Regions from separate parts of the Homo sapiens genome. Here region 1 is linked to region 2. The links come from fine-mapping of genetic effects on gene expression. A gene starts in region 2. The other region holds a variant in brackets. All regions are shown on one strand. Distances are between the middles of the regions.

The links.
Region 1: its variant is fine-mapped to the expression of NEGR1 in blood mononuclear cells (TOPMed, PIP above 0.99).

Annotation. Positions count from the first base shown.
Region 1 is chr1:72,346,149-72,349,067 of GRCh38, forward strand. The region is part of intron 1 of LOC105378797 (a long non-coding RNA gene); the gene reads left to right. Among named protein-coding and RNA genes, the nearest start is that of NEGR1, 65 kb to the left of the region's middle. The variant C/A (reference allele first, on the strand shown) is at 1,387.
Region 2 is chr1:72,281,014-72,283,932 of GRCh38, forward strand. It overlaps NEGR1 (neuronal growth regulator 1), which reads right to left and starts at 1,526. Exons shown (of 7, transcript NM_173808.3): 1 at 1,306-1,526. The coding sequence starts at 1,481. It overlaps LOC105378797 (a long non-coding RNA gene), which reads left to right and starts at 1,921. Exons shown (of 6, transcript XR_947506.3): 1 at 1,921-2,392. RefSeq lists silencers at 1,713-1,772, 1,873-1,962.

The DNA.
Region 1 (2,919 bases), 65 kb after region 2:
GATTTTAAGACTGAGAGATTATCTCAGTGGATTTGACTTAATCTCTTGAACCACTTTCTAAAAAGAGTTTTAGTTGGCTAGTTGCAGAAAAGAAAATCAGAGTTTCAAAGCTTTAAGGGGATTCAATGTGCCACTGATGACTTGTAGATGGAGGGGTACATATGAAAAGGGCTTCAGAGTGGCCTCCAGGAGTTAGGAGCAACCACCAGTCAACAGCCAGCCAGAAACAGAGGTCTTGGTCATCTAAGCACAAGAAATTGTATTCTGCCAACAAGAAGATTTAGCTGACCATGAGAATGATTTTTTTCCTAGAGCTTCCAGATGAGGACTCAGTCATCAGACACCCAGATTATAGCCCTGTGGTACCCTAGTTAAAGAACTAAGCTATTCCATGTCAGAGTTTTGACCAACAGTACTATAGGCTAATAAATAGGTGTGACTGTAGGCTGTTAAGTTTGTGTCCATTTGCTATGAAGCAATAGAAAACAGGCAGCATGCTCTGTTTTTTCTACTCTTGCATCACCTTGGTCTTTCTGTTCTCCTCCATTCATTAATAAATTGCTTCTGGTTCCTCTAGGTACTAGGCTGTGGGTAGGGGAAGGTAGGAAGGTTGAGAAGAAAGTTGGGGTGTTTTTAAAATGACTTAAGTTCAGCTGTCTTCCGAGTTCATGGGAAAATAAGCCATTCTTTTTCTGCCAAACGGTGGTATTAAGGCTTGCAGGATGAAATATTTTGCTTCTGACTTCTCCAGCTGAGAAGCAGGCATAATTTTCTGTGATTATTAATATTGCAAACTCTAGAAAATGCAAGCTAGCCTTCCCAGAAATTTTCTCACTGTTCTACACTCCAATTGCCCTAAGGGAAATAGAGGGTGAAGACTGTCTTTCCTTCTCAGAGGCACTCCCAATTTCTATGCGTGATTCTCTTGGGTCACCCTCATGTCACCAGGGAATGAAATATTCCCCATCTTACTCCATGCAGAAAGGAGGAGAAAAGCCAGGACATGTTCTGTATTCCTATGTATTCCCATTAACCACTAGCTTTCTCTTACATATGTTCATTAGGGGATGAACAAGAATATTGGAAAGATTGGTAAAATCTTGTAGGGACATTTCTAGATGATTTCTATGATTGTTTGGGATATTTGCAATCTGTCCTTAGTTTTGATTCCTCTGTGAATTGAGGTAAAATTCCCATTTAAAATCCTGTTGCAAATTCTACTTTGCGAAAGTAAAAACCACCACCCTGTGCTCTATGAAAGTTCCTTTCTTGCCTACTGATAATAGTTTGGTTCTCTCGAGTTAAAATATAGCTTTATTTTCAGATATTTAAAATATCTGCTTTTTATTTTCTAAAAATCACTCTAACTACTTGGTGGAGAGTAGA[C/A]TGCAGGAGGATGAAATTGGACCCTGCAATACAGATACACTTGAGGTAATCTAGACCTTCCATTAAATGGGTGATCCATGGAATGGCAGGATCAATGTCATCTGGAAGCCTGTAAGAAAAGATGAGTCTCTGGTCTTTCTTCAGACCTACTAAAGTAGAATGTACACTTTAACAAGATCCCCAGGTAATTTGTATGCTTACTAGAAATTGTGAAGGACTTCTCTAGGTGAGATTTGATGCTTGCTTATCTAGGGTGATGTGTGTGGAAATGGGGATAAGGGAATGGATACAAGATATATTTTTGAGATACAAATGACAGAATTTTAGGATGACTTGATGTCAGAAATAAGGAAAAGGAAGAAATCCAGCATGATAAGTTAGGTTTCTAGCTTGAGTAACATAGTGGTGGTTTATGAAGTTTGGGAGAGGAATATGCTTGATACAAAAAAAAAAAAAAAGCAACAAAGGTTCCAATTTGACCACATAATTATCAGGAGAATATATATATATATATATATATATATATATATACACACACATCTATATATCTACATCTCTCTCTCTCTCTCTCTCTCTCTCTGTGTGTGTGTGTGTGTGTGTGTGTGTGTGTGTGTGTGTGTATGTGTATATATATATATATATATATGTTTTTTGAGATGGAGTTTTGCTTTTGTTGCCCAAGCTGGAGTGCAGTGGCGCGATCTTGGCTCACTGCAACTTTTGACTCCCTGATTCAAGCGATTCTCCTGCCTCAGCCTCCTGAGTAGCTAGGATTACAGACGCGTGCCACCACATCCAGCTAATTTTTGTATTTTTTAAGTAGAGACAGTGTTTCACCATGTTCGCCAGGGTGGTCTTGATCTCCTGACCTCGTGATCTGCCCGCCTTGACCTCCCAAAATGCTGGGATTACAGGCATGAGCCACCACGCCCAGCCGAGAATATTTTAATAGTTATAATCCAGAGTCGTGCTTGCCTCTTATTCCTATTGTCCCTTTTCTGTTTCTACTCCATTCTAACTCCTTAGTTGAAAAACTATAATCAGTCTAGTCAGTAGCAATCTAGAGTAGATAATTTCTGTGGTTTTAAAAGGACAGAAATTACAAGGGCCCTTTCCCTGAAAATGTCTGCTTCTTTTATTTTCTTCTTATTGCCAATTCTATCCTGATAGTCAAAATTTAGTTAATATTAAATCTTTCTTCAATTGATTTTTCTACCTATTGTGAAATACAATTATCACCAAAATATGATAAAACTGTTTCAGATCCTCAATTAAGTATTAGAATTTTAAAAGAAAAATAACCAATAGCTTATTCAGAAAAAGAAAAGAAAAACAAAAAAATGCAAAAAAACCTCTTCTGTGTCTAACAATATTTTGCACAGCTTTCAAAATCAATGGTGATAATACAAAATCAGGCGTATTTTTGAAAGGGTTAGTAGGTAATTTGTGAATACCCATTGGTGGATGTGAGTAATCATCTTTTATTGGAATATATTAGACTGTACATCTTTTTAATTGCTATGTGTTTTCTGG
Region 2 (2,919 bases):
ATCATCCATTTATATTTTCATAGGAAATAAAATATTCCCAGACTCCCACTCTGCAGTGTTGCTTAGGGGTAAAATCAGGGTATGGATGTTTATTAATGACAAACCACCTCAGAGCTCAAGCTCAGAGGAAAGAAGGGAAAATGAGAAAAATAAGTAAAAGTGAAGACTGATGGAGGGAGGAAGGTAGGAATAAAAAGGGGATAGAAAGACACAGAAAGAGAAAAAGAGAGAAGCAGAGACAGAGTGAGAGCAGCGAGTGAGACAGGCAGTGTGTACACATGTGTGAGTGACAATGTGGAACAGAGAAGGAGAGTATGCCTTTTAAAAACAGTGAGAGACAATCTGAATGTGGAAGTGGTTCTTACAGCATGGAAGTGCCAGTGCATGTGAGGATGTGAGAGTATGTGAGTTAGTATGTTTATGGAAATAAGATTTATGAGGGTGAGTAAATGGTACTGGAGGGGAACAGTGACCATGCCTGTGTGTGCCACAGGGGTGGGAAACGGTATGGGGAGAGGGATGAGAAATGGGAGTCAAAAGAGGGAAGACAGGGCACAGGATAGGGACATTAAGGAGGAATAAAAAAAATAGACAAAAAGAAAAAAGGGTAAAAGAGAGGAGGAAAGGGGATTAAATGTGAGGAACAGAAATTAGAGTCGTGGAGATAAAAATGAGAAAATATGAGAAGAAATTTTAAAAAGGAGGGAAAAAACAGAAAATAGAAAAGGTATGAAAAGAGATATTGGAGGGAAAAAGAGTTACAAGGAGGTGGGGAAAATGGTATAAGAGAATGAGGAAGGAGAAAAGAAAGAAAACAGAAAGCGGTAAAAGGAAAGAAAGATAAAGAGCAAGAAATCGAGCCTAAGTGTCCAAGTGAGAGGGAAAATAAATGGGAGCAGAGAACAGCAGTTTGAAAGAGTCGCTTATGCTGGAGTAAAATAGAAACAAACCTGATAAACTTGTCAGACTCTCCAGGAGTACCCCATGACAGTAAAACAGAGACCTTGTGCATTGAGTTTCAAAGTGGCACCTGCCCCTCCTTCTAAACCTGACAGTTCACTCATCCCCAGGCTACTTGGCGTTCCGGCAAAGTGCTTTAGCATCACGAGTCCAGCTTGCTACCTGCCCCAGCATAAACGGGCCGGGGCTCCGGGAAGAATCTGCACCTGGAATTCTTGGGATGTGGTCTTTCCATGATGAGCACCACCAGCATTATTGCTTGTGTTATAAAGAAGGCAAAGAGGGTTCAAAGAGAGACAGAAAGATAGACCGAAACAAGTACGAAAAGCACGCCGTTCTTCCTACCTAAGCACCGCCGTGTCCCCTTTTCTGACCATCATGTTGTCCACGGCCGCCCAGGGGAAGTCCACACTCTGTCCAGCCGGGAGGCAGGAGGGTAGCAGGCAGCACAGGCTGAGGAGCACCGCCGCCAGCCACTGGTTCGAGCAACAAGCACCCTGCACCAACAGCATCATGTCCATCCCTGCTAGGGCTGCTCACTCTCCAGCAGCTTTCAGCTCGCACTCCCCCACCCCCTGGTGCTGGCGAGTCTTCCCGGGAACCAGGCGGCGCGCCACAGGATTTTTTTTTTTTTTTTTTTTTTTTTTTTTTTTTGGTGGGTGGGTGGGTTTCTTTTCTTTCTTTCTTCCCCCCACCCCAGTTGTTGGGTGTTGTTTCTCTCTTTTTGTTTTTCGGTGTTTTTGCCTCCCCTCCTCCTCTTCGCTTTCCCTCCCTCCCTCCCCTCCCTCCCCCTGGCACCACACTACACCTCCTCTCGGTTGCTTTTGGCCGCGTCCGGAGTGTGTCTAATTCTCGGGCGGCTCGCACACCATCTAGCGAGGAGGCGAGCGCGCCGGCGAGTGAGGGAGGAGGCGCGGCGGCGGGGGAGGAGGCAGGGCGAGCGGCGGCGGCGGCGGCTGCAATCCCAGCAGCAGCAGCAGCAACAGCAACAGCAGCAGCAGAAGCAGCGCGGAGCGCTGCGCCGGCCGCCGGCTCCCGGGCTCGCGCGCGTTGCCAAGCGGCCGTTTCCTTAGCAACCCCGCCAGGGGACTGGGGATGGAGAAGGGAGGGGGATTAAAAAAATAATAAAAAAAGAAAGAAAAAAGATAGCAAGAAAAAAAAAAGAAAAGCAAGACAACGAAAAAAAAAATAGGAGGAACTGTATCACAATTATGCAAACTAAGGGGGAAAGAGAGGCACCTTAGAATGAAGGCTCTCCTTACTGTCGTAAGCGCTAGAGGGATTCTTTGCTAGAAAAGTCTCCGTGTCAGGGCTGGGGTGAAGAGAGCTGAGGGGCGCTTTGCCTTCCCTCACCGGTGCGTTTTACCTCTCGAGGCACCGTAAGTTTGAAGTCCTCCAAGTTGTGGTCGGCGCCATCATGACGCCGGCGACTGTGAGTTGTTTTTTTGTTTATTTTCTTCTAATCTTGCCTGGGTGGCTACGCTGCAGTTAGCGAGCAGCCAACTAGTTCTCTCTGCGTTTTCTCGGGAATAGGTAGGGACGGTGGCGGGGCGCTGCTTTTTTGCGGGGACACGAGGAGGTGCAAGGCCTTGCGGCAGAGCAGCTTGCGTGTTTGTGGCGGTCGGCCCGTATGGATTGCAGGACGCCCCTCTTTTATCTGTGGGTGTTGACACTAAGTTGTGTGTGTGAGTAGGGGATTGTTTATGGTCAACATGGAGTGTGTGTGTGATAGAGAGCGTGTCGTGCGCGCGGGGGCCTGTGCACGCGCGGCACGCAGGCGCGCTGGGAGGGACGGGGCGGGTCATGCTGGGATGTAGAGTCGGGAAAAGACTGCAATCAAGTGTTTTAATTGTGTAGAGCCCAGGCGGTCCAGTTATGTAAGAGGCAGTTTAACCCATTTGAGCCTATCAGGCCGAATAATCGGCGCATCCGAGTCAAGGCAGGGCAGAGTTAAGGGGT